Linked DNA regions of Homo sapiens: regions 1, 2 and 4 are each linked to region 3. Evidence: fine-mapped expression QTL. A gene starts in region 3. Each other region holds a variant in brackets. All regions are shown on one strand. Distances are between the middles of the regions.

The links. PIP is the estimated chance that this variant, and not a neighbour inherited with it, causes the effect.
Region 1: its variant is fine-mapped to the expression of LINC01176 in ileum (GTEx, PIP above 0.99).
Region 2: its variant is fine-mapped to the expression of LINC01176 in sun-exposed skin (GTEx, PIP 0.96).
Region 4: its variant is fine-mapped to the expression of LINC01176 in gastroesophageal junction (GTEx, PIP 0.97).

The regions. Positions count from the first base shown.
Region 1 is chr7:30,243,093-30,251,171 of GRCh38, forward strand. All of the region lies in intron 2 of LOC124901607 (a long non-coding RNA gene), which reads left to right. It overlaps LOC105375218 (a long non-coding RNA gene), which reads right to left. Exons shown (of 4, transcript NR_136267.1): 4 at 4,335-5,302. Among named protein-coding and RNA genes, the nearest start is that of ZNRF2, 37 kb to the right of the region's middle. The variant T/C (reference allele first, on the strand shown) is at 4,586.
Region 2 is chr7:30,540,606-30,548,684 of GRCh38, forward strand. GARS1-DT (GARS1 divergent transcript) reads right to left here. Exons shown (of 7, transcript NR_038889.1): 7 at 7,752-8,079. It also overlaps the pseudogene TRPC6P10. Among named protein-coding and RNA genes, the nearest start is that of GARS1-DT, 33 kb to the right of the region's middle. The variant G/C (reference allele first, on the strand shown) is at 4,770.
Region 3 is chr7:30,386,777-30,394,855 of GRCh38, forward strand. LINC01176 (long intergenic non-protein coding RNA 1176) reads left to right here and starts at 4,109. Exons shown (of 3, transcript NR_108081.1): 1 at 4,109-4,259. RefSeq lists an enhancer at 4,291-4,909.
Region 4 is chr7:30,424,472-30,432,550 of GRCh38, forward strand. It overlaps NOD1 (nucleotide binding oligomerization domain containing 1), which reads right to left. Exons shown (of 14, transcript NM_006092.4): 13 at 4,903-4,986; 14 at 56-1,239. The coding sequence ends at 1,167. Among named protein-coding and RNA genes, the nearest start is that of LINC01176, 38 kb to the left of the region's middle. The variant T/TA (reference allele first, on the strand shown) is at 3,903.

The DNA of each region.
Region 1 (8,079 bases), 140 kb before region 3:
CTTTGAGGTGAAGAGCATAGGCCCTAAATCAGGCCACTTGGTCCAGATTTCCCCTCTACCACTTACTAGTTGTGTGACCTTGGAGATGTTACCTGGCCTCTCTAAGCTTCAGTTCCCCTGTCTGTAAACTGGAGATAAGAATAGGACTTATCTCCTAGAGGTACATTTGGAAGAAAGAAAGAAGTAATATACACAAAGCATTGGGCACTGAGCCCAGCACAAAGTATGCGCACAGTAAGTTTTAGCTATTATTAATATTGATTGGATTTTTTTCCCCTTGGCCCAGAATTAAACTTATTGAACCAAAAGAGCAAGTGCATTGCCGTTGAAACTCTTTAAAACCAAGTCCTTTTCAATCCCTAAAGTATACCAACTATTATAACTGGAAGCAGCAGCATACCAAGAGTGGGTTTGGGCATGGGCGGGGGGGCTTCCCTATATTCAGGAATTAAGAGGGTTCATTGTCAGTATAGAATTTTTTAAAAATAATTTTTAAAAACCCAAGTGAAATAAAACATTGATCTGCTTTTTATGATCACCATCTACCAACATTTCTAAACAATGTCATTGATAAAATTGCCCCCTCACAAAACTTTTGTTTGCTTAAGTTCTAAACATTGCTGCAATGACTGTTGAGTTTTAATAATAGATCCATAAGTTGCACATCAACACATTTTTATTACTTATCCTTTAATAAAGATTGTGTTCTTTATTAAAGTAAAGTACTGGAGAACTCTGAGTTATATAGTCAGCCCCTCATGCCTACAGACTCCATTTGTAACAGTTTTGAACTGGGGCTGGCTTCAATTTGTATCTCCAACTTGAGCAGTCCTTCACATTCCTGCATGCAAACAGCAGACTCAGCAACACAGATTTAGTGGCTGCAAAGACAAAAACATGGAATTTGAGTTACTTCAATTCTGTGTGACTTTGGGAAATTTTATTTCTATTATATTTAAATTTAAATTGGCTAACAGAGCATGAACTGTGAGGTATGGTATTTATTTGAGCATATTTGAGTGATCTTTTAAAAGGAAATTATTCTTTTAAAATTACTTGTTTTTCAGAGTAAAGATCAAGAAGATTGTGCTTATTTCTGATTATTACATGATTACTGCTGAAAATATTTTTGTTATATAGAGGATGTATTAGTTCGTTCTCATGCTGCCATAAAGAAAGAAAGGGTTTTAATTGATTCACAGTTCTTCATGGTTGGGGAGGCCTCAGGAAACTTACAGTCATGACGGAAGGTATCTCTTCAAAGGGCAGAAGGAGAGAGAATGAATACCGAGTGCGGGGGAAGCCCCTTATAAAACCACCAGATCTCGTGATAAACACTATCAGGAGAACAGCATGGGAAAAACCGCCCCTCGTGATTCAAGTATCTCCACCTGATCCTGCCCTTGACATGTGGGGATTATTACAATTCAAGGTGAGATTTGGGTAGGGACACAAAGCCAAACAATATCAGAGGAAGCAGAGATTAAGAAATGATTTACTCTGGTAACAAATATGCTCATTGTGCCACAGCACAGAAGGGACTTAGAATCTAGTGTAAGCCCTTCACTCTACAATTATCAGAAGGGAAGTTGTCTGAGGTCACCCAGCTAGGCAGTAGCAAAGAGACTAGACAAAACTCTCCTAGCTATTGCCGGACTACTTTTTCCATCCTCTACTCCCAAGGTAACTGAAATAGAACTATAGTGTTAGTGTTTCTCAAACTGGTAAAGAATCAATTTCTGAAATTTTTCAATCTATTGCAGAATAATACTAGCACACAGCCCAGACTACTGGCAGTTCATCATTCAAGTTCATACCATCCAAACAGTCACTCTCCTGCTGAACAAGATAAGTCCACTGATCACACACTTGGATACAGCAGCAATATCAAGTTGCCATAAACGTTTTTAAATGTTTACTCTCAATTTCTGTTCTTATCCCATCATAGACCGGTGACGGTTTCCTGACCAGCTTTGAGTAGCTCTGTACCATCTCATATAGAGTCCATAGCAGGGACTTATGGGCAGGAAAACATCTCTGGATAGTTAGATAAGCAATTTTTAGCTTTTGGGTTGTTTTGACTTTGTTAAATTTCTGTGAGGTTAAGGGCTTAGGTTTGAATTACCATCTGTATACTAGCTGCATGGCCTAAGCATCTTTAGGTGAGTTTTCTCATCCATAGAACAAGGGAACATTAGTGCCTAGCTCAGAGGGGCTTTTAAGGGGATATGCGTGTGCAACCGAGGGTGGGGGCTGACATGTAGTAAGCCCTCTTGTGTATTAGCTATTATTAATTTTATTGCCCCCTCCTCTTTTTTTTAATGTGGGAGGAGGGTGTTGCAGAATAATGTGTCACAGTATAGTTACTATTATTAGGGTTGTTGCTTTTCTAGCCAGAAACCTCTGTGGCCGGTGGCGCCTTTGCCTGAGTTATTGTCCTGCATCCAGGAAGAATGAGGCATGCAGACAAGTGGAGAGTGAGCAAGCTGAAGAGGAGCTTTATCAAGTAGTAGAACAGCTGAGAGGAAACCAGCAGTGGGTAGCTCCTCTCTGCAAGCAGGTCATCCCATCACCTCTGCAGCTCTCAGCAAAGGCTTGGACTGGGTGGCTCCTCTCCACAGGCAAGTTGTCCCAATGAGTGTTCAGCTCTCAGCAGAGAGGGTAGTTTCTGTCTGCTGAGAGCAGGCCCTAGCTCCTCTCTGCAGCTGGTTGTCTGGATGTCTGCTGCTCTCAGCAGAGAGGAGACCCTGGAGAGGCTAGCTCTTCTCTGCAGCTGGTCATCCAGAAGTCTACTCTGCTCTGGCTGAGTCGGGGGTTTTTATGGTCTTCGGCAGGGGGGTAGTGCATGCTGATTGGTCCATGGGCAGCCATAGGTGGGCCCAGGGTAAAGCACCCCGAGTTCCCCCTCTGGTCAGCAGGACTGGCAGCCTGGTCCCCAGGCTTTAGGACTTTCCCAGGCTGAAGGTGAGGCTTCACCGGGGACCCAACCCCTTCTGCCCAGGAGCCTGTCTGCCTCCCCCTGCTGTTCATGGCACCCAGGCTATTTGTCCCAAGGTGAGCCTGCAGGCCAGTGCTGAGCTGCCCTCATCCCCCCGCTCAGCTTCCCTCCCATGCTTGTTGGCACCCAAAGTTCAGAGGGGGCTGAGGGAGCAGGGGGCTGGCGTATCAGTACTGTCCCAAGCATGCGTCCACCTGGCTGGACTGTGTCAGTACCCGGGCTTGGCCCCAACCTTACTGTATGATCAGAGCAGGCACTGGGAGCAGGGAGAGGCCAGGCAGTGGGAGCAGGCACTTCCGAGCCTGTTGGGGGCAGGGGCACCTTCCTGGGCCCCCAAGGCACAGAGACACCCAGTCTGGAGCTGCACCAGGGCAGCTGCAGCAGCACCGGAGGAAAGCAGGGCTCCTGCCTGCTCCCTAGAGCGGGAGCCCAGCCACACTTTCCCACCACAGCCAGTGTCTTGGCAGCAGCCACTCTAGATGGGCTGTTGCTGCCATCACCATAAGGCAGCCCAGGGAAGAAATTATGCCAAGTCAGGAGTTAGAGCTGTGAGCTCTGGCCCTGTTTTCTGGTGACCTGTCAGGATCACTACGCTAGAGGTGCATTCAGGAAGCAATGATGGGGCATCGTCCTGCGCCAGGCTTTCACTGTCCCTGGCAGAGAAATGGTCCCTGTTCTCGAGGGTCTCACGTCGTGGAGAAGAAGCAGAAGAGATACTGTCAGCAGATACAGGGGCTGTCACAGAGGCAGGATCCCACGCAGAAGAACTCCAGCTAGCTCTTCTCCATCTTAAGTTTCCCAGTTTGAGCTCACAGAGAAAGCCCAGTTGGGTTTGTGTTACACAAGGGCACCGTCTCCATCTTTGCTTCCCTTGAGGAGAGATTGTCACCTTGTCATGGGACTTACGATGACCTTGACATTGCTGCATCTCCTCCCATGACAGAGTGGTTTTTCACTGATCCTGGATAAATGAATTAACTGCAGTGGTGCTGGTGGCAGGGGGTGTGGAGGGAACAGGAAATACTACAGAAAAGGGGAGATGTTGTATTCGGGCTTCGAAGGATGAGGAGGAATCTGCATTGCAAGGTGAATGCCCAGGGGTTGGACATGTTCCGTGACAATAAAAAGTCCCCATCTTTCTAAGATCTGGCTTTCTCATCTGCGGGATGAGGATAAGGAAACTGCCCTTGCCTCACTCATGGCATCCTTGGGAGTGTCCTCTGACGGACCCAAGGCAGAAATGTTTTAGGAACTATGAACTGCTGTACAAATTATTATATAATACTCAGCCCCCAGCACAAACATTGACTGTCAGCAGAGAGGGTTAGAACAATTGTTTTGCAAGTTGATGAATTATTTTAATCTTTTATAAAGTGAACTCTCCCAGAATGGTTTTCATTAATGTCCGATACCCACAACTGAACCACCACGCCACTTGTCTTTTACTAAAACACTGATAAAACAGAATCCAGCTTGCCTTTGTGAACGTGTTAAAAACGATGTTTTCAGGGAGAACAATAGAAAAGTAGCCAGTGTTGTCAGTTTGACATTCCTCGCTAGGATTTATTCAGGCTGCTGATGTCTATA[T/C]GCAAACAGTACATTTAGAAGCCAAATGGGTTCTGGTGCCTTATGAATTTCTTTCTTCTCCCCAATTTGCATAGAGGGGAGGCCAGCAGGAAATGTAGTGGCAATCAAATTTCACTTGTAATGAAACAATGCAGTGTTTTTGACTGTGGATGGGTGTTTAAATAATCTTGACAGTAGCAGCTGGTTCCTTTCTTCCTTTGTCCAATTAGGTGCTGTTTTTTCTGCAAGGATTACTCAAAGGCAGTCAAACCTTGATCCTCCCTGTGTCAAAAGTCTGCCTGAAAGCCTGACTTCTCATCATCTAAGAAGAAACAGCACATTTATTTTTCTGTCTGGGTGTGACACCATTTCAGAGAAAGGTTGCTAGCTTTGAGCTGAAATGTTATTTCATCCCTGGAGTGTAGGTGAAGGCTGTTTCTTCTAGGGATTGGAGAGAACTGTGCCAGCTAAGGCAAGTACTCAGGATAGCCAGATGCTGTCAGCAAACAAAGAGTCTCGGTGGAAAGTGAGAAAGTGTGCATTAGGGTGAAGAGGCTGAATTGCCACCTATCCGTAGCTCTGGGAAGAGAGAAGCTCTGTAAATAATCCACTTTCAGGCAGTTTAATGCTTTGAACATAGTAACAGCCCATGCGCAGAAATCATCTGATAGAGCAGATTGCAAATTTCACTTCCAGCAGTGTGGTTGTTCTTGCACTACAAGGAAAGGTTCTGGCAGCCTAGGGAGGAAGAGGGAAGAGAAGGAGGGGGACTTTGAAATATGGCCTGGCCCTCCTCCCACCTCCATGATGCCACGGGGAAGGGGTATCTCAGAAGGGATCCTAGCTATTGATTAGAACCAGTGTAATTTTCTTTGTCAGCACTTAAGACTGTTTCCCACTACCTGTAGACTTCCCAGATTAATGAGTCAATGGTGTCCATGGGGCACCTCTTATATGTGCAACTGATCCCCAGCATCCGGAGAGTGGTATAAGGTTTATAAAATGTTTTTCATTTACGGTGTTGTATATTTTTCCTCCCAATAATCCTGATGGGTAAGAACAGACATGGAAGTTATTTCCCTGAAAAAAGAGGTAAAAGAATAAGATGTCATAATAATAATAATAATAATAATGGCTCAAATTTATTGAGCATTTACCAGACTTACTATCCAAATGATCACATTTAATTCTCATAACCACCTTGTAAGGGAGGTACTCATCACTCCCAATTTGCAGATGAGAAAACTGAGGTTCAGAGAAGTTAAGTAAACAGCCTAGGTCATACGAGTAGGACACAGCCCACTCCAGCTGAGGCAGAGCCTGTGGTCTTCTGAATCACTATGCTATGCGGCCTGGGTCTCTGACACTTAGCCCTGTTCGTCCTCCAGGGAGAGACATTTGACCAGTATTAAGAGCCTACTGTGTGCCAGGAATAGCTCTAGACACTGGTGATGCATTCATTCACTCAACAAATATTTCAGTATTTCCTGAGTGCTCACTACATGCCAGATTCTGTTTTGTGTTTGGGGTACATCAGTGAACAAAGCTCTCTGCCTTCCTGGAGTTTACGTTCTACTGGAGCAGGCAGACAAGAAACAGGACACATTTAAGAAAATCATATGGTATGTTAGCAAGTGATACACTCTATGGAAGAAAGAAAACTTACAGCATAGTAAAGGGTACCAGGAATGCTGGAGTTGGGGTAGACAGGGTACACTTTTAAATAAAGTGGCCAAGAGAGGTCTCATTAAGAAGGTGGCATTCAAACACAAAAATGGAAGGAAATGAGGGAAGTAACTGTGTCCACATATAGGGAAGAGCATTACAGACAGAGGGAAGAGGCAGTGCCCAGCATGTTGAAAGAACGGCAAGAGGGTAACATGGCCAGAACTGTGAATGAGGAAGAGACAGCAATAGAGATGTGATCACAGCATGGTGAGGACCCAGTCATGGCAGGCCCCCATGTCACTGTGAAGACTCTGAGTGAAATGGAGCGCCCTGGCAGGGCTCTGAGCAGAGGAATGGCCTTTTCTTGTTTTTGTGTTTAAAGAACCACTCTGAATGCTATTTTGAGATGAACTCTAATGTGGCAAGGGTGGAGGCAGGTCAGAGCCAATGCAGTGATCTAGGGAAGAGATAATGCTGGCTCGGGCTGGGCAGTGTTGAAGGTAGTAAGAAGTGGTCAGATTCTGTGGGTGTTTTGAATGTAGAGCCACATTGCAAGACTACCAAGTCATTAAATCAACTGAAACCTGGAGTTTCAAAAAACCTAGACTTAAGAAAACCATTTTCATAACAGAGGAACAGAACATAGGATTTCATGCATGGTGACTTAGAATACTGAAAATTAGTGCTAGTTAGGAAAGAACTATACTTAGACCCAACAGAAAGCATGTCAATAAGAAAACTAGAAAACATAATACATTCCTGTTGTTGTTCCTTGTTTCATTAAATTCAATGCATTCACAAAAATAAAGCAAGCCTCACTAACAAAGCCACATCATTTATAACTTTGCCCTTGTGATTGTGCTGTGAGTACATTCCACAGACAGAGTTAACAGTATTTTAAGAACCATTGCTTCTTTGTTTTCCAAGCTGAACCCTGTTTTACTCCATTGGGAAATATAAATAATGGGAGAAAAGGAAGCAAGATAATGCAAGTATTAATTAACCATTCCTGATCCCTATGACTACAGACACTTTGTGATTATAAGAATCCTAAGAAAAATGGCTTTTTTCTTCTAGGCTTCATCTATTAGATGCTAATGTGGAGAACAAAGTGGCCAGATGAACTTGATTAGCATCACTCTAAAGGAAGATGAGTTGTACCTAGGCAGTTGTCGTGGGCTTGGTGTTTTTTACCTTCTCTATATAGCACAGGAAGTGTTTTGCTGCTAAGACTCGGTGGATCATCATTTGTTCTTTTATCATGGGTGGGTGTGGGCAGAAGATGAGCATCAACAATATTTACTGCTTGACTCCTATGTGCCAGCACTCTGCTACTGTCTCATTCTCCTTTGTACACCCAGTTTATAGTCTTTTAATTCAGCCTGACAGTGTTCTTTATTGAGGTGCACACCATCATTAATGTTCACAGCTGAATGAAGATCTGGCTTTCTAAACAGCTACAGGATTGATGGTTTTATATTAAGGGAGCATTCTCCTCAATGGAGCTGACTTTTAAAAGTGGACTCTGGCATTGGATTAAGTTCTGAGTATTAGGAGATCACTTAGAAGGTCTGTACCTTCCTGCTTGCCTGGTGGCTAATTGTGCAGCCATTATCAGATTCCTGATTAAGAAAGTATATGATGAAAGTTTCCTATGAGGAAACTACTGTGGATAAAGGCCTAAGCTTAGCCTCTTCAAAATACGATTAAATATTAGGTTGGTACAAAAGTAATTGTGGTTTTTGCCTAATAGTTGAGGCATTCTTATTAATCAGGATCACTATTTCTGGAAGTTCTAGCCACTAATAGGCAAGAGAATGAAATAAGTATACCACATTATAATTATT
Region 2 (8,079 bases), 150 kb after region 3:
GTAACTAAGATTAGAGCAGAACTGAAGGAGATAGAGACATAAAAAACCCTTCAAAAAAATCAATGAATTCAGGAGCTGGTTTTTTGAAAAGATCAACAAAATTGATAGACTGCTAGCAAGACTAATAAAGAAGAAAAGAGAGAAGAATCAAATAGGCACAATAAAAAATGATAAAGGGGATATCACCACCTATCCCACAGAAATACAAACTACCATCAGAGAATACTATAAACACCTCTATGCAAATAAACTGGAAAATCTAGAAGAAATGAATAAATTCCTCAACACATACACCCTGCCAAGACTAAACCAGGAAGAAGTTGAATCCCTGAATAGACCAATAACAGGCTCTGAAATTGAGGCAATAGTTTATAGCCTACCAACCAAAAAAAGTCCAGGACCAGATGGATTCACAGCCGAATTCTACCAGAGGTACAAAGAGGAGCTGGTACCATTCCTTCTGAAACTATTCCAATCAATAGAAAAAGTGGGAATCCTCTCTAACTCATTTTATGAGGTCAGCATCATCCTGATACCAAAGTCTGGCAGAGAGACAAACAAAAAAAGAGAATTTTAGACCAACATCCCTGATGAACATCAGTGCAAAAATCCTCAATAAAATACTGGCAAACCGAATCCAGCAGCACATCAAAAAGCTTATCCACCACAATCAAGTTGGCTTCATCCCTGGGATTCAAGGCTGGTGCAACATATGCAAATCAATAAACGTAATCCAGCATATAAGCAGAACCAGAGACAAAAACCACATGATTATCTCAATAGATGCAGAAAAGGCCTTTGACAAAATTCAACAACCTTCATGCTAAAAACTCTCAATAAACTAGGTATTGATGGGACGTATCTCAAAATAATAAAAGCTATTTATGACAAACCCACACCCAATATCATACTGAATGGGCAAAAACTGGAAGCATTCCCTTTGAAAACTGGCACAAGACAGGGATGCCCTCTATCACCATTCCTATTCAACATAGTGTTGGAAGTTCTGGCCAGGGCAATCAGGCAGGAGAAAGAAATAAAGGGTATTCAATTAGGAAAAGAGGAAGTCAAATTGTCCCTGTTTGCAGATGACAAGATTGTATATTTAGAAAACCCCATCGTCTCAGCCCAAAATCTCCTTAAGTTGATAAGCAACTTCAGCAAAGTCTCAGGATACAAAATCAATGTGCAAAAATCACAAGCATTCCTATATACCAGTAACAGACAGAGAGCCAAATCTTGAGTGAACTCCCATTCACAATGGCTTCAAAGCAAATAAAATACCTAGGAATACAACTTGCAAGGGATGTGAAGGACCTCTTCAAGGAGAACTACAAACCACTGCTCAATGAAATAAAAGACGACACAAACAAATGGAAGAACATTCCATGCTCATGGATAGGAAGAATCAATATCGTGAAAATGGCCATACTGCCCAAGGTAATTTATAGATTCAATGCCATCCCCATCAAGCTACCAATGACTTTCTTCACAGAATTGGAAAAAACTACTTTAAAGTTCATATGGAACCAAAAAAGAACCCACATTGCCAAGACAATCCTAAGCCAAAAGAACAAAGCTGGAGGCATCATGCTACCTGACTTCAAACTATGCTACAAGGCTACAGTAACCAAAACAGCATGGTACTGGTACCAAAACAGAGACATGGACCAATGGAACAGAACAGAGCCCTCAGAAATAATGCCACACATCTACAACAATCTGATCTTTGACAAACCTGACAAAAACAAGAAATGGGGAAAGGATTCCCTATTTAATAAATGGTGCTGGGAAAACTGGCTAGCCATATGTAGAATGCTGAAACTTGATCCCTTCCTTACACCTTACACAAAAATTAATTCAGGATGGATTAAAGACTTAAATTTTAGACCTAAAACCATAAAAACTCTAGAAGAAAACCTAGACAATACCATTCAGGACACAGGCATGGGCAAGAACTTCATGACTAAAACACCAAAAGCAATGGCAACAAAAGCCAAAATTGACAAATGGGATCTAATTAAACTAAAGAGCTTCAGCACAGCAAAAGAAACTGCCATCAGAGTGAGCAGGTAACCTACAGAGTGGGAGAAAATCTTTACAATCTACCCATCTGACAAAGGGCTAATATCCAGAATCTACAAAGAACTTAAACAAAATTTACAAGAAAAAAATCAAACAACCCCATCAAAAAGTGGGCAAAGGATATGAATGGACACCTCTCAAAAGAAGACATTTACGCAGCCAACAGACACATGAAAAAATGCTCATCATCGCTGGCCATCAGACAAATGCAAATCCAAACCACAATGAGATACCATCTCACACCAGTTAGAATGGCGATCATTAAAAAGTCAGGAAACAACAGGTGCTGGAGAGGATGTGGAGAAATAGGAACACTTTTATTACACTGTTGGTGGGACTGTAAACTAGTTCAACCATTGTGGAAGACAGTGTGGCAATTCCTCAAGGATCTAGAGCTAGAAATACCATTTGACCCAGCCATCCCATTACTGGGTATATAACCAAGGGATTATAAATCATGCTGCTGTAAAGACACATGCACACTTATGTTTATTGTGGCACTATTCACAATAGCAAATACTTGGAACCAACCCAAATGTCCATCAATGATAGACTGGATTAAGAAAATGTGGCACATATACACCATGGAATACTATGCAGCCATAAAAAGGGATAAGTTTATGTCCTTTGTAGGGACATGGATGAAGCTGGAAACCATCATTCTCAGCAAACTATCGCAAGGACAGAAAACCAAACACGCATGTTCTCACTCATAGGTGGGAATTGAACAATGAGAACACTTGGACACAGGAAGTGGAACATCACACACTGGGGCCTGTAGTGGGGTGGCGGGAGCGGAGAGAGATAGCATTAGGAGATATACCTAATGTAAATGACGAGTTAATGGGTGCAGCACACCCACATGGCACATGTATACATACGTAACAAACCTGCACGTTGTGCACATGCACCCTAGAACTTAAAGTATAATAATAATAAAAAGAAAGACCTAGAGATGTAACTGTGCATATGGGAATGATTGGTTCTGATTATACTGGAGAAATTCAATTAGTTATTAGTTCTTCAACTCCGTGGTCTGCTTCCCTAGGAGAAAGAATTGCTCAGTTGTTGACATAAAGCTGGGAAGCAGTACAGTGAAAAGAACTGGAGGCTTTGGTAGCACTAATCCAACAGGAAAGGCTATATATTGGGTTAATCAAGTGTCTGACAAAAGACCTATTTGTACAGTAGACCTGCTGTTGGATGCTTACCGGTTGACACACAGGACTGGTTGTCAGTAGTCCCCAGAAAAAATAAATCATGGGCTGCTTTGCATAGGGCAAGTGAAGTCATCACGCTTCAGTTTCATGGTTAACCTACCTCTGCTACAGAAAAACGATTTAATCAGCACACAAGGAATGTGTTCATTGTGGTATTTGTGGCCTTTATGATGGGAATGTTCAACGTCTACTCCTACTACATTGGTGCAAAACAAAATGAAGCCTTCACAACAGAGTTTTAAGACACTGTTCTGGGCTATATTTGGACTTTCTGAAGTGAAATCAGTGGTCATCAGCTATAACCACAAATTCATTGCTATAATGTTCCAGGAAATTGAGGATGACGCTGATGTGGAGTGGAAATTTGCAAGGGCCAAACTCTTGTTTTCCTGCTTTGGGGCGGGGAGAGCACTTCCTGTTCCCTTCAATCTGGTGCAGGGTCCAGTGTCCCTGTTTTTCTCTTGGTGAAGCTTAAAGGGTGGATTTCTGAGCTCTACTCAGGGTCATAGAAAAGGTTTCCAGGAAAGATGCAGAGATAAGTAAGTAGAGATAAGTAGAGACAAGTAAGTAAGTAGAGATAAGTAAGTCTAAGTAGAGATAAGTAAGTACAGCTAAAGGAGATAAATATAGAGATAAATAGAGATAGAGATAGATAGAGATATAGATAGATAGAGATAAATAGAGATAGAGATAGAGACAGAGACTTGCAGGAACTCACAGGTACCACAGGGACAGATAGGGATAGATGAAGACTAGCAATATAAAATCAGTGCCCTAAAGAGGTACAAAAGCAAAGACTAGCAATATAAGGTCAGTGCCCTAAAGAGGTACAAAAGTAGAGGCTAGCAAAGACTAGCAGAGATTTGCAGGGACAGACGAGAACATTCTGAATTATGGAAATTAGCTATGGCTCAAAGGGCAAATATAAAAGGAATAGAGCGGGGGAAGGTAAGGATAAAAATGCTTTTTCTTTTTTCTCCAATAGGACTCTTTGGTCCTTTAAACTTAAAGGGCAGATGCATTGGTGTCTGTGGTCTTTGCTGATGCACAAGAATTCCATTCTTTAATATGAGGAAGAGGATTTGTTTGTGTCTCTCCAGGTGATGATCAGGTGCCTGTGTGGGTCCTCACCAAACATCTGAAGATCTGTCATGAGCCACAGCATCTAGTGGACCCACCTGTACAGTGCAAATTGAAGGTTTAAGGATTGCTTTTAAGCCTTGATTTGCTTTCCTGGTGCCTTCTGTTGGAAGGGCCTGTTTCTCAATATCAGTGGCCTCCCAGCTACAGCCACAACAGTTTTTGCTTCTGTTTCAGTAGATTTACTAATGTGGGGGTGAGGGTATGCTTGTGTTTTTGCAGGAGATGAACGAACCATGTGGATGCCCTCAAGACGTGTACGACCATGGAATGGGAGACTGGAGGGACCCATGGATCCTAAGCATGGACTGGGTTCCCCAGTAC[G/C]AGCCATGAGCCAGCTGAATCTGAATGAGAAGATGGAACGAGGACCGACCGGAGTCTTGATGCTTAACAGACCAATGCTTTCTGGCTGAGCTCCTCTCTACCCTGAATACAGAAACCCTAATAGTTAGGCAGGAGTATCATCACCCCTATTCAGCATGAAGAAGTTACAGAAGATGGACCTTCATCCTTCTGCAACCCCTAGGATTAAGGGTCCTGTAAAAGGGAAAGCGGAGATATGTGGGAAGCACTCAAACCAGAGTGACTCCGGTTTGAATAAGGGCTAAGAAAAATGAAGCTGGATCACCAACCGGCAATTAAGGGCTGCACAGCCTGCAATCACCTTGCTAATGATAGCTAGTAATAATACTTTCTCTTTTACAAAAAAGAGAAGGGGGGCATGTTAGGAAAAAGCTGAGTGTTGGGAGAAACTGAGGCAGGGCTTGCATATCTGACATAATGTCCTCTGGAATGTGTCTAGCCTTGCTGGCTCCTTGCTTCTAGCCTTCCTAGGCTCCTACTCCCATTATCTCAAGTAGCAAAACATGTTCCATATAAACGCTAAACCATCACAGCTGTAAATCATGTGCTTAATGCAACATGTCCTTTTGACCTCCACATTCTCACCACATGTTTCTTTGTTGGACTGCCAATAAATAGCATGGGCTCCCAGAGCTCAGGGCCTTCACAGCCTCCACAATGGCGATGGCCCCCTGGTGTCCCACCTTTCTCTTTCAAACCTATTTCTCAATCCTTTGACTCCACCAGACTTTGTCACCCCCATGACCTGGTGTTGGGTCTGATCACCCCAACAGACAATAGATTTGGAAAGAAAACAGAGCTTCTTGGTTCTGGCTGCACTGGAGAAATTTGAAAAAGTACCAGTGCCCAGGCCCTCTACCCCAGAGAGTGTCAATGAATTGGTCTGGGCGTGTTGGAATCAACTGAGAGCTTTTACACAGCACCACTGCCCAGGCCCCACCTGAGCCCCATTAAATTAGAAATGCTGGGGGCGGGGCCCAGGCACTGACGTATTTTGAAGCTTCCCCAGTTGAATTGATTCTAGCTGGAACTGAGAACCATTCCCATCTCCACCCCACAGAAGGACAAAGGAAGGCCATCTGGGCTGGAATGGAGTTGGGAGAAGGCAGAGGCATGGTCTCATAGAAAGGGGGACAGCTGAGTGGGGTCATTCCCTAAACCTGTCACATCTGTATAAATCCTATCATTAATCTCTCCTTAATATGTAAACTACACTTACTATAGCTAATTTAATAAATGGAGGTGTTCTCAACATCTTCCTCCAAAAGCAAAAAACAAAAGCAGCTTTCGTCAGTTACCTTGTGTGAATGTCACCTGCTTCCTGCCAGATCCTGACTGATGTGCTGTGTTAGGCACCTGGTTGCAAAAAAATCAGAGGTGGTCTGGTTGCCATGAGCATGTGGTATAAGACAACATCTGGACAAGAGCTGGACTTGAAAGCTGTTCACGAGCCTAAGTTTAGAAAACGCTTCTGCCACCAACCGTCATTTCCCATGCCTCTCTCAGACCAGAATGGCCACATCTTCCTGTGCTGCTTTTGGCTCTGTTCTCTCCATGCCCATTACCTGCCCCAAATCTGCAGCCCAAATGCCAGCAGAGCACCAGTGTCTGGCCAGCTTCCACCTCAGGTCCTGGTGGGTATGGCGCAGTGGACACCACACCCACCTCCACCCAGAACAGTGCCTTGTGGCTTCCCTGGGTAGAGGACTTCAGACAGGGTAATGTCAGCAAAAAGGGAACAACACGTGGGACTGTAAGTCCAATTAAATCTCTTTCTTTTGTAAATTGCCCAGTCTTGGGTATGTCTTTATCAGCAGCATGAAAACAGACTAATATAATGAATGTCCCGGGATGGTAGATTCCAAACTGTGCTCCTTGAAACCCCTAGGACTTTAGATTTAAATCAGATCCATGAAGTGGCCCAAGAGGATCTTCAGAAACTTAGGAGGGAGTTTAAAGCTGAAAAATTGTAAAAGCCATTCTCCTAAATCAGTGAGCTTTAATGATTCAAAGGAACTTAAAAATTATATCATCAAACATTTTTACTTTCAGGTAAAGAAACCATGGACAGGTCTTGTTTCCCAGGACCTTCTGACAGAGCCTCTACTGATTTTGAGTACAGTCCACGGGTCCAAAGGAGGAAGGATGGACTGGCTGCTGGCCTGCCAATGGCAGGGGTTCATGTGGCTTGGTCTACCTTACCAGTGTCCAGGTTGAACCCTTAATCACTAGTGTAATTCCTCAGTCAAGCCTATGTAAATCCAAGTGCTTATATAAAAATAAGTTATTTCAAATCAGCTTGCGACATCATGATGATGATGATGATGATTACTATTATCATTATTGAAACAGGGTCCTGCTCTGTTGCCCAGGCTGGAGTGCCAGAGGCATGATCTCAACTCACTGCAGCCTCCACCTCCTGGGCTCAGAAGATACTCCCACCTCAGCCTCCTGAGTAGCTGGGACTATAGATGTGTGCCTTCACACCCAGCTAATGTTGGCCAGGCTGGTCTGGAATTCCTGGACTCAACCAATCCACCTCCCTCAGCTTTCCAAAGTACTGGGATTATAGGCATGAGCCACCACACCTGACCCAATTACTTTTAATAATAATAGTGCTTGTGGTGTTGATTAACATTAGGGAACACCATGATTAGAAGGACCCTCTGAAAGGCCCCAGGCAATGATTTTGAACCTTCTCTTTGGGCATGCACTATTTTCAGAAGCTGATGAAAACTCTGGAGCTTCCTCCCAGAAAAATGAATATACTTCAGACACATTCCATCTGTCCCAAAATTTCAGGGGTGTATAGACTCCTTGAAGCCCATACTTGAACTCCAGATTAAGTATTTGTGTTCTTCAGCATACACCCTGGGCAGAATTTTTCATCTGTCTTTGACAGAAGATCCAGATGGCAAAAACTTCATGGTTCACCTTTCCATCTGCCTGGTACACATCTTTTTATTTTAAACTTATTTATCTCATTAACACAGATGTAAAACAACAGTAACAACCCCTTGTTATGCTAGAAAAGGAAATAAGGAGACTTGAGTCACGTAGCCGATACACATGGATAGGAGGGCACTTTTCCTGTCATTAGTACCAAGATGATTGAGGTCCTCTCATCCCAGGCAAAGGGTGAAATGCACAAACCTAACAGCACTTTTTGCTCAGTTACTCTGTGACCTATTCCTGATTTTAGATGCAGGTAAACTAACTCCTGAAAATGGACATTTAGTATTCATATATATACTAAATATTTAAGGTATGT
Region 3 (8,079 bases):
CAATATGTTTGAGAGATTTGTGTCTTAGCAAGTGGATTTTTGCTTTAAAGTCCCATTGAACTAGTGCTGGAATAAGAACTAATAGTGAGATACAGTTTTTTGTATTATAATATTTATGCTCTTCCTCCACATCTTCATTTGGCTGGCTCTTTCTTTGTTCAGACCTCTGCATAAATCTCACACCTCAGAAAGGCCGCCTGTGGCCACCCCATCTTTATAAAATAGCCTCTCTCTGATCATTCTGTCTAAAGAAGAAGACCACCCCCATTGTTCTGCATCCTGTTCCCTGTTAAACTTCTTAGCACTTAGCACTGCCTACCTCATCATGTTTGTTTCCTTGTTTATCTTATCTCCCTTCTCCCACTAGAATGAGGACTCGATGAAAGCGAGATTTTTTTCTGTCTTGTTCATTGCAGTATCCCAGAACCCAGAAAAGATTCTGACACAAAATAGTCATCTATAAATATTTAAGTCAATGACTGAATATTTAGAAAATTATTGTGGTATTTTTTCAGAGTGTTAACTTCTTTTGAAGTGTTGTGTGAAAGACATCCATTAGTATCTCTGAAATTATGAATTAAAAAGAAGGCAATAGGCTGGGCGCAGTGGCTCATGCCTGTAATCTCAGTACTTTGGGAGGTAGGAGGATCACTTGAGCCCAGGAGTGCAAAAGCAGCCTGAGCAACATAGTGAGACCCCATCCCTATAAAAAATTTAAAAATTAGCCAGGCATTGGTGGGGCATGCCTGTAGTCCCAGCTATTCTGGAGGCTGAGATGGGAGGATCACTTGAACCCAGGAGGTTGAGGCTGCAGTGAGTCATGATTGCGCCACTGCACTCCAGCCTGGGCAGCAGAGGAAGATCTTGTCTCGAAAAAAAGGCAGTAGGCGAATATAATTCAATATAAAATAAAACTTTGTGGAGTCATCTAATGCCAGGGACATAGGTGGACCGCACCTAATGATGATGAAAATAAGACTATTAATGAAGCAGTTCACATCAGCCTTTTGATACTATGCTTTTATCAAGTTTGTGTAAATGAGATTATGCAAATAATAGTGATGGCTCTCACTTTGGAGCACTTATCTGAGGTCAGGAGTTCGAGACCAGCCTGGCCAGCATGGCAAAACCCCGTCTCTACTAAAAATACAAAAATTAGCTGGGTGTGGTGGTGCACACCTGTAATCCCAGCTACTCAGGAGGCTGGGGCAGCAGAATCGCTTGAACCTGGGAGGCAGAGTTTGCAGTGAGCGGAGATGATGCCACTGTACTGCAACCTGGGACAGAGTGAGACTCCATCTGCAAAAAAAAAAAAAAAAAAAAAAAAAAAAAAAAAAAAAAAAGAAGCAAAATCTGAATTTCACTCATCTTGAGTATGAACTGGCCCTAGTAACTTGTTTCTAACTAACAGAATGCAACAGAAGTGATGCTGTATGACTTCCAGGGCTTAGTTAGAATAGGTAATACAGCTTCTAACTGGCTTTCTCTCAGGAAGGTTCTCCGTGGAACCAAGGTTCTATGCTGTGTGAGAAAGCCCTGGCCACGTCAACCACCAAACATGTGAGTGAGGAAGCCTTCTAGATGATTCCACCCTAACCACCATCTGGCTAGAGCTGGATGAGAGACCTGAGGGAGAGCTGCCTAGCTGAGTCCAGTCAATCCCCAGAATTGTGAGAGAAGATGATATATGATTGTTGTTTCATCTCACTAAGTTTGGGATGGTTTGTTACACAGCGGTTGATAACTAGACCAGAGACCTTTCCTAGAAACGCTGGAGAACACGTGCCAGGATGGTCCTGGACATCTCCATTGTTTGCTGCTTGCTTCTCTACTGTGCCCATTGCCTGTGCTTTCACCAAACCCCCTATTAACCAGACATTGTCAGCTACCAGAAGTTTCCTGTCTTAGGATCTTGACACTTTTGAGACTCTTTGAAGTTACGAGACATGATGGACTTACTATCAAAAACTTGGCAAGCACAGTTACATCAGCAAGTGTTACTTTGTTCAAGTAAGAGGGGAAATAGTGCAGCATGGCAGTTAACCCTGTGCTCTCTAAGCTTTTACTGAATTTCAGTGGGTCATTCTAGAGACTTGGTAGCCACATGCGTGTCAGTTTGTTGATATTCAGTATTGATTATTCTCATAGGAGCTGTATATAATTGTTTTGAGCTTAAAACAAAGAAAATGATTAGTTTATGGTTCTAATCTTTTGGATTTTTTTTTTTTTTTTTAGACGGTGTTTCACTTTTGTCGCCCAGGCTGGAATGCAGTGGCGCGATCTCGGCTTACTGCAACCTCCACCTCCCGGGTTCAAGCGATTCTCCATCCTCAGCCTCCTGAGTAGCTGGGATTACAGGCGCCCGCCACCACACCAGGCTAATTTTTGTATTTTTAGAAGAGACAGGGTTTCACCACATTGGCCAGGCTGGTTTTGAACTCCTGACCTCAGGTGATCCACCCCCCTCGGCCTCCCAAAGTGCTGGGATTACAGGCGTGAGCCACCACGCCTGGCCTTGGATGTTTTAAAGTAAAATTTTCCCCACTGCAAAATAATAGATATGTGTTGTAGGAACTTTTGGAAACACAAGGCACAAAGGAAAAAATACCTTCATATTTCTCCTTTTCCCATCTCCCCAGAGACTTTTTTCTCCTTATTTGTTGGCATATGTCTTTCCATACTCTTCAATGCATATATATTCACAGGATAACATTATATGTGGTATTTTAGAACCACATTTCTAACATTCCATTTATCATGTTTTGTATTTGCATAGTATTCCATTTCGTAGTTGTACCATAATATCTTTAGACAATGCTTGTGGTCAAATAATTTCCCCCAATATTTTACTGTTACAAAAAATGTTTCGATGAACATTTTGGTCTAAAGTTGATGGATCAAGGAATATAGGGGTCATTATAAGTTAACAAATACAGCGTCAGATCATGGTACTACTCTGCTGAAAATCCCCCTTGGCTCCCATCTTACTCAGAGCCAAAGCTAAGGTCTTTACCATGACCTAAAATACCCTCAGCCATCCGGAGTGTGCATGTATGCATACACACAGACATGTACATGCCACTCACTCCTGCCTCTCTAGCTCATCTTCTCCTGCTCACCCCTGACTTGTTCCCCTGAAGCTATTCCTGGAATACACCAGGCAAGCAAGCCCCTGTGTCAGGGCCTTGGCACTTCTTCCTTCTGCCTATAACAATTCCTCCAAGTATCCACAGGCTTCCTCTTTCACTTCCTTTGTTGCGTTGGCTCAGATATCGCCTTATCTGAGTGCCCTTCCTTAACTATACAATACAAAATAAGTTCATGAATCTGCCCTCACCCCTACATTCCCTGTTTCCTTTACCTTGTTCTATTTTTCTATAACATTTACCTGACAAATCTTATGTTTGTTTATTGTCACTCTTCTTCCAGAATGTAAGCACTGTGAAGTCAAGGACTTTGTTAGTTTTGATCACTATTGTATCCATGGGTTCTAAAGCACTGCCTGGCACATAGTTGGCACTCAGTAAGCTAAGAAATAATAAGACTAACATATTGGGATTGTGGCAAGGAGGTAAGTATACTCCACTTTTTCAAGGGGATTATAAAGGGCATCATTTTTAGGTGGGAGATATTGGACATAGGAGTTTGTGAACCAAGAGACAGAGAAAGATGTTACTTGGAGATATGGAGGTTATAAGTATCAGAAGATTAGAAGTTCCGGGGATGTTTTAAAGTAAAATTTTTCCCATTGCAAAATAATAGATATCTGTTGTAGGAACGTTTAGAAATACAACTAAAGCACTTTTTGCTTTACTTGGAGTGGGTGGGACTGGAATTGGGAGGAGGGGCCATGGAGAGGCTGCTTTTTTTCATTGTGCATCTTTCTGTAAGACGTGAATTTATACCATGTACACCAATTACTTAAATAATAAGAGCATGTTTGGACTTCCAGTTTCTGGTGATGGCTGGTTATGAAAACTTGAAGAAACAAAATAATGGCTTTTTTTAAGTGAAGAACTAAAAAAACATTGAACTTCCAGGCCAGTTTTTGGATAAAAGTCTATAACCAGGGAGGGAAATGGAATACTGGAACAAAAAGCTGCCTGTGCTGAGACAGCAGTTGCTGATACCACAAACACTTGTCTGCTGTTTCTGTGGCCTGGCTGAGCCAAGAAAACATGTTAAAGCACAGAGCCCACGCAAGACAGTGTGCTTGCAGGAGACCCTACCAACAGGAATCGGATAACAAGGAGCTAAAGGTAAGGAGGAGTCAGAGCTGAACCCAGTGCCCTCTTCCCAGCAGTTGTAATGAACTGTGGCTACCTTGGTGCTCTTGGAGCAGGGAGGAAAAGAAATAGAAAATACAATTTCCCTGGAAGGCCTGTGCATATCTGCTTCCCTGAAGATTAGCTTCTCAAATATACATAGCTGGTTGGGCCAAGGATTCTCAAAATCTGAATTCGGCAGAAGCACAGCAAGATCTCTCTGGAAGAGGGCTCATCTCAAGCGTCAGGAGACTCCCGTTAAATACTTATTCAAGAATAATGTGTGGCAAGCGATAAAGATTACAAGTTACCCAAGCAACTTGAATATGAATGAGAATAGAAAATCACAGAAGCCCAGCTTCTTCCACTTAGCATAATCATTTGAGTCATCCATGTTGTCATGTGTATTCAGCAGCTTGGTCCTTTTAATTGCTGAGTGGCAATCCATAGTTTACTCATCCATTTACTAGTGGAAGATTTGTGTTGGTTCCAGTTTTTAGTGACAGTGGTTAAGCTGCTGTTAACATTCACCTAGAAGTTTTTTTGTTTTGTTTTGTTTTGTTTTTGAGACAGAGTCTCGCTCTGTCGCCAGGCTGGAGTGCAGTGGTCCGATCTTGGCTCACTGCAACCTCCGCCTCCCAGGTTCAAGTGATTCTCCTGCCTCAGCCTCCCTAGTAGCTGGGATTACAGGCACATGCCACCACGCCCAGCTAATTTTTGCATTTTTAGTAGAGACTGGGTTTCACCATGTTGGCCAGGATGGTCTTGATCTCTTGACCTCATGATCCGCCTGCCTCTGTCCCGCAAAGTGCTGGGATTACAGGCGTCAGCCACTGCGCCCGGCCTCACCTAGAAGTTTTTATGTGAATCAAAGATTTTGTTTCTCTTGAGTACATTCCTAGGAGTGGGATAGCTAGTTATATGATAAATATGTATATATACTTAGTAGGAAATTGCCAAACAGGTTTGCAAACTGGTGGTGCCACTTTGCATTCCCACCAAAAATGTATGAAAATTCCAGGTGATTGGCATCCTCACCAGAATTTGATATTGTCTGCAGTTTTGATGTTTTTGCTATTTTTTTGTTTTGACTTGGGTATACGGTGCATTTCATTGTGTTTTTCATTTTCATTCTCCCAATGCAAATGATGTTGTGTATTTTTTCATATTCTTCTTTGCTACAGGTATATTTTCTTTAGTGAAGTGTCTATTCAACCCTTTGGCACATTTTTGAAAAACTGGATTGTATGTTTTCTTACTGAATCTTGAGAATTCTTTGTATATTCTTGATACAAATCCTTTATCAAAAATATGGTTTTGGCCAGGTGTGGTGGCTCACGCTTGTAATCCCAGCACTTTGGGAGGCCAAGGTGGGCAAATTGCTTGAGCCCAGGAGTTCGAGACAAGCCTGGGCAGCATGGTGAAACCCCATCTCTACAAAAAAAAAAAAAAGTACAAAAAATACAAAAAATTAGCCAGGCATGGTGGTGGCACACGCCTTTTGTCCCAGCTACCTGGGCGGTTGTGGCTGTAGTGAGCCATGATTGTGCTGCTGCACTTCAGCCTGGGAGACAGAGTGACACCCTGTCTTTAAAAAAAAAAAAATTATATATATATATATATATATGTCAAATATATATATATATATGTCAAATATATATATATGTCAAATATATATATGTCAAATATATATGTCAAATATATACATATATATGTCATATATACATATATATGTATATATATACATATATATGTCATATATATAACATATATATGTCATATATATACATATATATGTCATATATATATACATATATATGTCATATACACATATATATGTCATATATATACATATATATGTCACATATATATACATATATATGACATATATACATATATGGCATATATACATATATATGGCATATATATACATATATATGGCATATATATACATATATGTCATATATACATATATATGTCATATATATACACATATATGTCATATATATACATATATATGTCATATATATACATATATATGTCATATATACATATATATGTCATATATACATATATATGTCATATATATACACATATATATATGTCATATATATATACGACATATATATATGTCATATATATATACATATATATATATGTCATATATATATACATATATATATGACTTGCAAGTATTTTCTATTTTCTCCCAGTCTGGCTTGTTCTTTTGTTTTCTTAGCAATGTCTTTTGAAGAGCAGACATTTAAAATTTTGATGGAAGTTCAATTTATTGGGTCTTTTTCTTTTTTGAATTGTGCTTTTGGTGTCAAATCTAAGAAATGTTTGGTAAACCCAAAGTTACAAAGATCTGTCTTCTAGAAAAGAGGTGAGCAAACTTTTTCTGTAAAGGGCCAAATAGAAAATATTTTAGGCTTTACAGGTCATAGTCACTGTTGTAGCATGTAAGCAGCCATAAAATACATAAATGAATAGGTGTTCAGTAAAACTGTTTTTACAAAAACAGATAAAGATTTGGCCCATGAGCCTTAGTTTGCTAACTCTTGTTGTAGAAGATTTAGGTATTGCAGTTAAGGTATGATCCATTTCTAGTTACTTTTTTTATGTGGTGCAAGCAATGGGTGGAGAGTTTTGTTTTTGTTTTTGTGTATGTATATACACTTATTCTAGCATTATTTGTTAAAAAGACTGTTCTTTATCCACTGTATTATCTTTACACCTTGTTTAAAATCAGTTATTCATGGGTGTGGATTTATTTCTGAATTTTCTTTTCTGCATCTGTGTCTGCCCCTTCTTTATGACTATACTGTCTTAATTACTGTGGCTTTGTAGTAAGTTTTGAAATTGGGTAGTGTGAGTCCTCCAGCTTTATTTTTTTTTTCCTCAAATGTTTTAGTTTTTATAGCTCCTTTGCCCCTCCATATAAATTTTGGAATCAGCCTATTAATTACTACCAGACTTCCTACTGGGATTTTGATTGGGATTGCATTGAACCTATAGATCAATTTTGACATCTTAACAATATTGAGTCCTGTTACCAGTGAATGTAATATATCTCACCATTTATTTCAGTTTTTTGTTTGTTTGTTTTTGTTTTTTTTGAGACAGAGTCTCTCTCTGTCACCCAGGCTGGAGTGCAGTGGTGCAATCTTGGCTCACTGCAACCTCCACTTCCTGGGTTCAAGTGATTCTCCTGCCTCAGCCTCCTGAGTAGCTGGGATTACAGGCACGTGCTACCACGCCCGGATAATTTTTGTATTTTTAGTCGAGATGGGGTTTCACCATGTTGGTTGGGCTGGTCTCAAACTCCTGACCTCGTGATCTGCCAGCCTCAGCTTCCCAAAGTGCTGGGATTACAGTCGTGAGCCACCACACCCAGCCTATTTCAGTATTTTAAAGTGTCTTTCATCAGCGTTTTATGGTTTTCAATATACAAATCTTTTACATAATTTGATAGGTTTATACTTGAGTATTCATGATTTTTAGTGCTATTGTAAATTGTAAATAATACTGTTTTAAAGTTTTTAATATTCAGTTCATTGCTGTTATATGAAACTGACTGATTTTTCTATATTTCCTTTTGTATCCTGTGATCTTCCTAAACTCACTTACTTGTTCTAGTAGCTTTTTTTTTTTTTTTTGTAGATTCTCTGGAATTTTCTGCATAGACAATTATGTTGTCCACAGATCGAAACCATTTATTCCTTTCTAATCTGTACGCCTTTTCTTTTCTTTTTTTCTCTTTTTATTGTTTGCTCCTCCTTCCCTTCATGTGTCACTTTCCACCTCTGTCCCT
Region 4 (8,079 bases), 38 kb after region 3:
GAGTCAATGAGTGCTTACCAAGCCAAGTCCCTTCAAAAACTCCAGACTCAACCCGTAAGAGTGTTTTCAGTATTTTATTAACAAATGAGCTGGCAAGAGGACAAGTGATCTAGTAGTATCACCCCCACCCTCATGGAGCAGCCACCACAAGCCCACCATGGTGGGGGGTGTCCAACATGCTCTGCTGGCCCAGTTCCCAGCCGATCCCCTGAGTCTTGGCGCCCGTTTAGTCACCCTTCAGCTGCTTGGGAGGCAGGAAGAGACTTCCCCTCTTCACGAGGTAAGGGAGACAAAAGCAGCCATTTGGATGCCAGGGCCACAGGGGCAAGCCATGCCCTATTTCTTTGGAGGGACAGAATCACTTCTTCCCAAGGCCAGACACTGTAGCCCATGGTACTCAGCCTTCTAGAGGAGGGTAGCCTAGCAGAGGAGAAGCCCTGAGTGGAAGCAGCATTTTGAAGGCATCGTCATTCTTAGACCAGCTAAGAGCTGAGGGCATTCTCTATCTTTGCCAGCAGACAGTGAGACTCCAGGATTAAAATTAAAAGCCCGTGGTGCATCCTTTCCTTGACATTAACTTTCCACAAAACCTTGGAGGAGTCAAATCCCACACTGCACATACTCCGGTGTCTCCAGCTGTGAAGTGGGACCAGTATCAATACATGGGAAAGTGCTGAGAAGGAAGAAAATATTTCAGGTATAATACTAATCCATCAAACACGTTTTATTCAAGAAGCTTGGCACCAACTTTGTGCCACATCCTCAACTCTTCAATGAAAAGAGCGGTGACCAACTCGCTCCCGTTGGTCCCTATGGCAGGTGTTGGAATGAGGTGAGGCTGGCCTCCTCTGTTTGCTCACAGCTTTATTCCTCTAGCTTCAGATAAAAATAATTATAATAGGCAATAAAGTCTCTTCACAGTGTATTTACTGTAACTACAACAGCTCGCAAGACACATTCTTTTTCTGCAGAATTGTAGCGGGTACTTAGGGAGTTTGCCGACCAGACCTTCTGCACAGGAAGCTGGCTTGCATCATGGAGGCAGTGGACTCCTGATAGTCCCGCCTGCGCAGGCCCCTTTAAGACACTGACACAAAAGACTGCCCAGAGTGGCATTTGCTGCTGAGGCTCCAGGGCAAAAACCCCATGAACAGGAAAGCATCCTCTCAGAAACAGATAATCCGCTTCTCATCTTCATAGACTTTGGCCTCCTCTGGTTTTATCAGGTTTCCATTTAGGCTGTTGAAAAGGAGGAAGACAAAAGTACACAGGTAAAATGTTAAGGATCCTCGCACACTCCTTCCCAAGGTGTGTTCATAGCACACACTCGTGTATCACACAATACACATGTATCCCTGAAATTAAGGAACATACCCTTTGCAGATAGTTCCTTCATATTAGCATGGATCCTCTCCAGCTGCCATCCCTCTGTTCACTGGGTCTCACTAAGGTCACCTGTAGCCTCCATAAGCCTGAATTTAATGACATTTTCCAGGTCTTGTCTTTCTTGGCCCTCAGGATTTTGGCTGTCCTGACCTCTCCTCTCCCTCCTTCTTGAGGCACTCCCTCCCCTTGGCTTGGTTATATGCGCTGATTTTTCTCCTGCATCTGAGCACTCTACTTCAATTTCCTTTCCTATATTCTCCTCCATGTGACCTCTACATCTGAGATTTCCTCCAGGTTTGGGGCTAAGCCCTTTTCCCCACCCGATCTCATCAATGCCACGGCCTTGTTTGTATGTCCGTGGAGGCAGTTACCTGCTTGGCATCCTCACTTGGACCTCTCCCCCACACCTCAAAGTAGCCACACCTCCTAGGGTCCCCTGGCTTAGTGAATGGACCACTCTCATCCTGCTGAGCAGGTTAGTAACCTGGGGGTCAACCTGGACACCTTCCTTCTCATCCCCATGTTCCTTGTATCACAAAGTTCTCCCCTAATTCCTAAGAATCTAGAATGCCTCCCTGGAACCTCTATGTCTTTGGCCGGCCATCTTGGTCTGAGCACCCATCATCTCTTCCCTGCATCAGTACAATGTCCTACTGACAGGTCATTTCCACGTACTCTGGCCTTCTCCAATTCAGTTTCCTAGAAGAGCCAAGAATTGGTCTTTTTGCATTGCAGATCTGATCACATGCCTCTCCTGCTTCAAACTGTTCACTGACTTTCCATCACTTTTAGGATAAAGACCAAAATGCACATCATGACCCACAGATCTTTTATGGTCCAGTCCCTGCCTATCTCCTCAGCCTCCTGTAGTCCCCTCTTCCACACTGTCTGAACCCTGGGGCACAGCAGCTTCTGGCAGTTCTTCCAGGACACCACACTCCCTCCTGCCCCAGACCCTTTGCACATGCTGTTCCCTACGCAGAATACTCACCTCAGCTGACTAGCTCCTATTCATCCTTCATGGCTTAGTGTAAGTGCTGCTTCCTCAGAGAGGCCTTCCCTGCAACCTCATCTAAATCAGGTTCCCTCTTGGCCTTCCCCTTTGTGATAGTACCCATCACAGTTGTAATTAAATAATTACGCAAATGATTTTTTCTTTAATGTGCTTCTCCCTTTCTAGACAGTGAACCCATGAAGCCATGTTGTTCACCACTGGATTTTTGGTGCTAGCACAGTCCCTGATGCTCAAGCGTTTCGTTATTCAAGGAATAAATGAAGACACAGCACTAGTCCCTAGGACCTTGACTCAGGCCCCACCCTCCCAGAGCCACAGTCTGGAGGAGATAGCCTCACAGAAAGCTGTTATACTGGAGTGGGATACATTTCTGTAATTTACAGTGTTCATTGTTCACCTCTAATTTCTGTTCTTAAAGACAGAACTCATCAAGGGACTTCAGACTTCCAAGTTATTTTCAGAAAGGAATGAGGTAGAAATAAGTGTCAGTACAGTTAACAAGTCCAAGGAGAAGGCTTACTCTGTAAGTGTTGGCTCCAAGCAGAGCTGCTCCCTGAACGTGGCTCCCCGGCCAGCTCAACCACAACCCTGTGGCCTGGTGTGGCAGTCCCTGGCAGGGCCAACAAAGCCACAGCCTTCTCAGAGCCCAGTCCCATGAAGTCACACACAGAGGAGCATGCTCTGGAGGCTCCCAGAACAAGCCAGGGACCTAAGTGAAGACACTCCCAAGACCAGCACCCATGCCGCCTGTCCTGCCCTCTCTGAATTGGTGGCCAGTTCCCCTCTCCACCCTGACACAAGTGCAGGCCTTGAAGCTGAAGTCTCCTGGCCCTACTAAAATGGTTCCTTGTGTAGGAATGGTGACCCTCAAGAGGGAAGCAATGCAGATTTTGAAACTTGACAGAATTAAAGCAACTGTAGGTCTTTACTACCCGCCTGACCAGCTACAGAGAAAAGTGGAAGCCAACTGTGCTCTGCAAACTGTTCTGTAGTCTGGCAGTCTCCTTCCTCTCCCCCTCTGCCTGCTGTCCTCAAAACTTAAGAATCAGCAGAAACGGAGTGGCCTGAGGGCAAACACCCATGCAAACAGTTCCAGTGCCCTCCAGTGCTTCCCAGGCTGCTGGGCAGGCTGGGCTTCGCAGGCACACAGGCCACAGGTGTCTGTTTAGATCTGGGCTCTATTCTCTATGATGGTGTTTTTCTTTTTTTCTTTTTTGTTTTTTGAGACAGGGTCTCTGGCACCCAGGCTGGATTGCAGTGGCATGATCCTGGCTCACTGCAGCCTTGATCTCCCATGCATCCATCCTCCCACATCAGCTTCCTGAGTAGCTGGGACTACAGGCACATAGCACCATGTCGGGCTAATTTTTGTAGTGACGGGGTTTCGCATGTTGCCCAGGCTGGTCTCAAACTCCTGTGCTCAAGAGATCTGCCCATCTTGGCCTCCCAAAGTGCTGGTATTACAGGCATGAGCCACCATGCCTAGCCAACAGTGTTTTTT[T/TA]TAAAAAAAAACCTTTTGTCTACAACCCTAAATAAGAATTACATTTTATGTTGTGAACCAACACTTATGCAAACACACACCCACTCACATGCAAGCATGAACTAAGATGAATGAAATGATACTTTCATACCATGCACATTGCATCCTGATATTTTGTTCTGTTCTGTTTTCTTTTTAAATATTGTTGGTTGCAATTCACCAAACTGATCGATTTTATGACAAGTTCCAAACAAGTTCTAAAGCAAAGTTTAAAAAACACTGTATGAGGAGCCTGTGTTGGCCAAGGAGCTGTTTTTTGTTTTTTTTTAATTGGCTATGAAATTCTCCCCAGTCATGAAAGGAGGACATAGTTAATAAGGCCCCTCTCCCAGCATCCACCCAGTCCCACGTCACCCAGGCAATTAAGTTGTTAAGGGAGCTGCTGAGTGGGGAGTGTCTGTGCCTTATGGGAGGCAAGAAAGAAGTGGCATGGCGCTCAATGTCACAGTAAAGCAAACTTTTTTTCTTCTATTAGCATAAGGAAGTTCTCAAAGCAGAAAAAAGAAGTAGACAAAGAGCACAGGTCAGTTCAAGTCAGCCTGGAAATGTCTTACGGAACCCAGAAAAGGGGAAGAATGAGCTCCAAACTCCTGGCCAACACAGTCATCTCTCAATTGCTGAGTCCCAGGGGGATTTACTTCCACTAGGAAATCATTTCACTGGCCACTTCCCCCATCCCACCCAATGAAGGTAGATGAGGGCGGGGGCCCAGGGCAGGAGAGCACAGAATATGGAATCAGGCATTCTGGGCTGAATTCTAGCTTCTCTCGTAGTGACCTTGGGCAACCTTATTTCACTGGTCTGGGCCTCTGTCTACCTCTGTAAAACAGAGGTAATACCATTACTGTGCAGGGTTGCTGGAGGAATAAACAGAAACCACCCTGCGTTGTGCCTTGCACAGTCAGTGGTGGTGAGTAAACAGTCACTGGTGTTATTACTGTGACAAACGCTGGGATCTTACCAAATCTCTGTTATGCCAGTGTTGCTCTGTAACGCATCTGCCAGCTGGGCAGTCCCCTTAGCTGTGATCTGATTCTGGATAAGCCTGAAAGAAGAACATAACTTGTATAAAATCCATAATACTGGATCAAATTTGACCCCTTCGTAAGGGAGTTGCAAGGGTGTTTTGGGATAAGAGACAAGTTGGTCAGGGGAAGAACTGAGTCCATGTGACTTTGTATCTGGCTAAAAGTGTCCAGGTAAGATCCACTAGAGTAAAGGATAGCTTGATATTTTTTAAATTTTCTGTTTGTTTTTATAGTGAACATAATGTAATACATGAACTGATGTGTGTGTTTGCATTTTTCACTGCAGAGGTGCATAATCAAAATATTTGGGGCCGGGTGCAGTGGCTCACACCTGTAATCCCAGCACTTTGGGAGGCCGAGGTGGGTGGATCACGAGCTCAGGAGATCGATACCATCCTGGCCAACCTGTCTCTATTAAAAATACAAAAAAATTAGCTGGGCATGGTGGTGTGCACCTGTACTCCCAGCTACTCGGGAGACTGAGGTAGGAGAATTGCTTGAACTGGGAGGTGGAGGTTGCAGTGAGCCAAGATCGTGCCACTGCACTCCAGCCTGGGTGACAGAGTGAGACTCCATTTATATTTTTATATATATTTGGGAGACCACCAATCTGAACAACAAATTGTAAGAAACACACCATGGGACAGGAAGTCTGACGTCTCCTTCCAGGTAGCTAGGGAAAGGCAAGGCAGGTTTTAAAGTTAAGAGGCTACCAACATGCAAGAGGGAGGGAGGAGAAACAGTTATGCTGCCATGAAATAGTTCTCATGAATAGTTCTCATGGGGCTCAGTGGAAAAGCTTTAATAATGGGGACTCTGAGAATGCACCCCATTGTTCTGGGTAGCAGTGATTCAAATGAAACAAAGTTTTCAGCTATCGCTAGGAAGCCAGGCCTCTCCTGAAATGCTCCCTTGGGCAGCTACGCTTCTAACCCAACCAGGAAATAAATGCATCAAGAGGCTGTAGTGTCTCCGCTTCATCACAGAGTCATTCCCTGCTCCTGGCTGTTTGTAGAATAGGCTCCTGCTAAACATGACCCTTAGAAATCCTGGCACTGACCCAAGAAGGAAGCCCTTACCAGGAAGACGAGGGCCCTATGCTGTCATGAATGAAGAGGACTCCCTCGTGAGAGGCAGTATTGCAGAGCGGGTGCAGCTCCTCTTAAACCCTCCCTCCCCACTGTTCAGCTACAGAACCTTGAAGAAATAAACGCATCTGTCTGTGCCTCAGTTGTGTCATCTGTAAACTGAGAATAACTATAAGAGTGCCCCCCATCCACTGGGTGTGTGAGATTTCAAGAGGAGGGTATTAGGCACAGTGTCCAGGGGGAAGGGAGCTCTTGTCACTGTTACTGCCCAAGCACACAGGACCACTGGTGGCTGGGCTGCAGCCAGGATCTGGTGCTCCCAGCCATACCCCACAAGGGCTAGGGCCCCTGGGTTCAATGGCAGAGGTAATGACCTTCCCTTTCAAAAGGGACAAAAATAGAACCAGGAAGTGGGCACCAAGTTCTGTATTCAGTTACACTCTGCTGTTTTCTAGTCACCACTTAGGCTTTTTTGAAGGCAGGGAAGGCAGCCTCCAACCAAGATGTGGCAGGAGGCCAGGAAGGAGAGCACCTAATGCCCCTAAAAAGCCTGCAGTGTCCAGGCACATCCACCCACTCGGGCTGCCTTCACTAGGGCCAGTGCAGGTTGGGAATGCACAAAGCAGCCAAGACTCTCTTTCTGACCCTGTCCTAGCTCTGCTCTCCCTGGAGAGGCTGGCCTGCACTTAGGGAATGGGATCAAATAATTCTGCAGGCTAAAAAGGAAAGAAAAAACAATATGTAGCAGAGTCTAGTCTTTTTGCAGAAATTGACAAGGTGAGTCTGAATTCATAAGAAATGCAAAGAACCCAGAATGGTCTAAACAATCTTGAGAAAGAAGAACAAAGTAGAACTCACACCTCCTGATTTCAAAATGTACTACACAAAGCTACAGCAATGGTCCTGGCATAGGAGAGACATATAAATCAATGGACCAGAACAGAGAATTCAGAAATAAACCCATACATTTATGGTCAATTGATTTTTGACAAGGGTGTCAAGGCCATTCAATAGGAAAAGATAATCTGTTCAACACGTGGTGCTGCCGGGACAGCTGGATATCCACGTGCAAGAGAATGAGGTTAACCCTCACTTTACACTATACAAAAATTAACTCAAAATGGATTGCAGACCTATATGTGAGGGGAAACAACTATAACGCTTAACAGAAAACTTAGGTGGAGTTCTTTGTGATCTTGGATTAGGCAATCATTTCTTAGATAAGACACTGAAAGCACAAGCAACCAAAGAAAAAAATAGATAAATTGGACTTCATCAAAATTAAAAACTATTGGCCAGGTGCAGTGGCTTTTCGCCTGTAATCCCAGCACTTTGGGAGGCTGAGGCAGGTGGATCACCTGAGGTCAGGAGTTCAAGACCAGCCTGGGCCTAAATGGTGAAACCCCATCTCTATTAAAAATACAAAATGAGACAGGCATGGTGGCTGATGCCTGTAATCCCAACTACTCAGGAGGCTGAGGCAGAAGAATCGCTTGAACCCAGGAGGTGGAGGTTGCAGAGAGCTGAGATCATGCCACTGCACTCCTGTCTGGGTGACAAGAGCAAGACTCCATCTCAAAAAAAACAAAAATTAAAAACTGTTGTCCTTTAAAGGTCACTATCAAGAAAGAGGAAAAACTCCACAGAAAGAAAGAAAATACTTGCAAAACCTGTATCTAGTAAAGGTCTAGCACCCAGAATATATAGAGAACCCCTATAACTCAGCATTAGAAGACAAACCCAATTTTAAAATGGGCAAAGGATATGGAGACATTTCTCCAAAGAAGCTATACAGACTCCCAGTAGGCACATAAAAAGACATTCAACATTGTTGTCATCAGGGAAATGCAAATCAAAACCACAATATTACTTCACATCCACTAGTATAACTAGATTTTAAAAGATGGACAATAATAAGTGTTGGTGAGGATGTGGAGAAATTGGAATCCACATACATTGCTGGCGAGAATGTAAAATAGTACATCCACTTTAGAAAACAGTTTGGTGGCTCCTCAAAAAGTT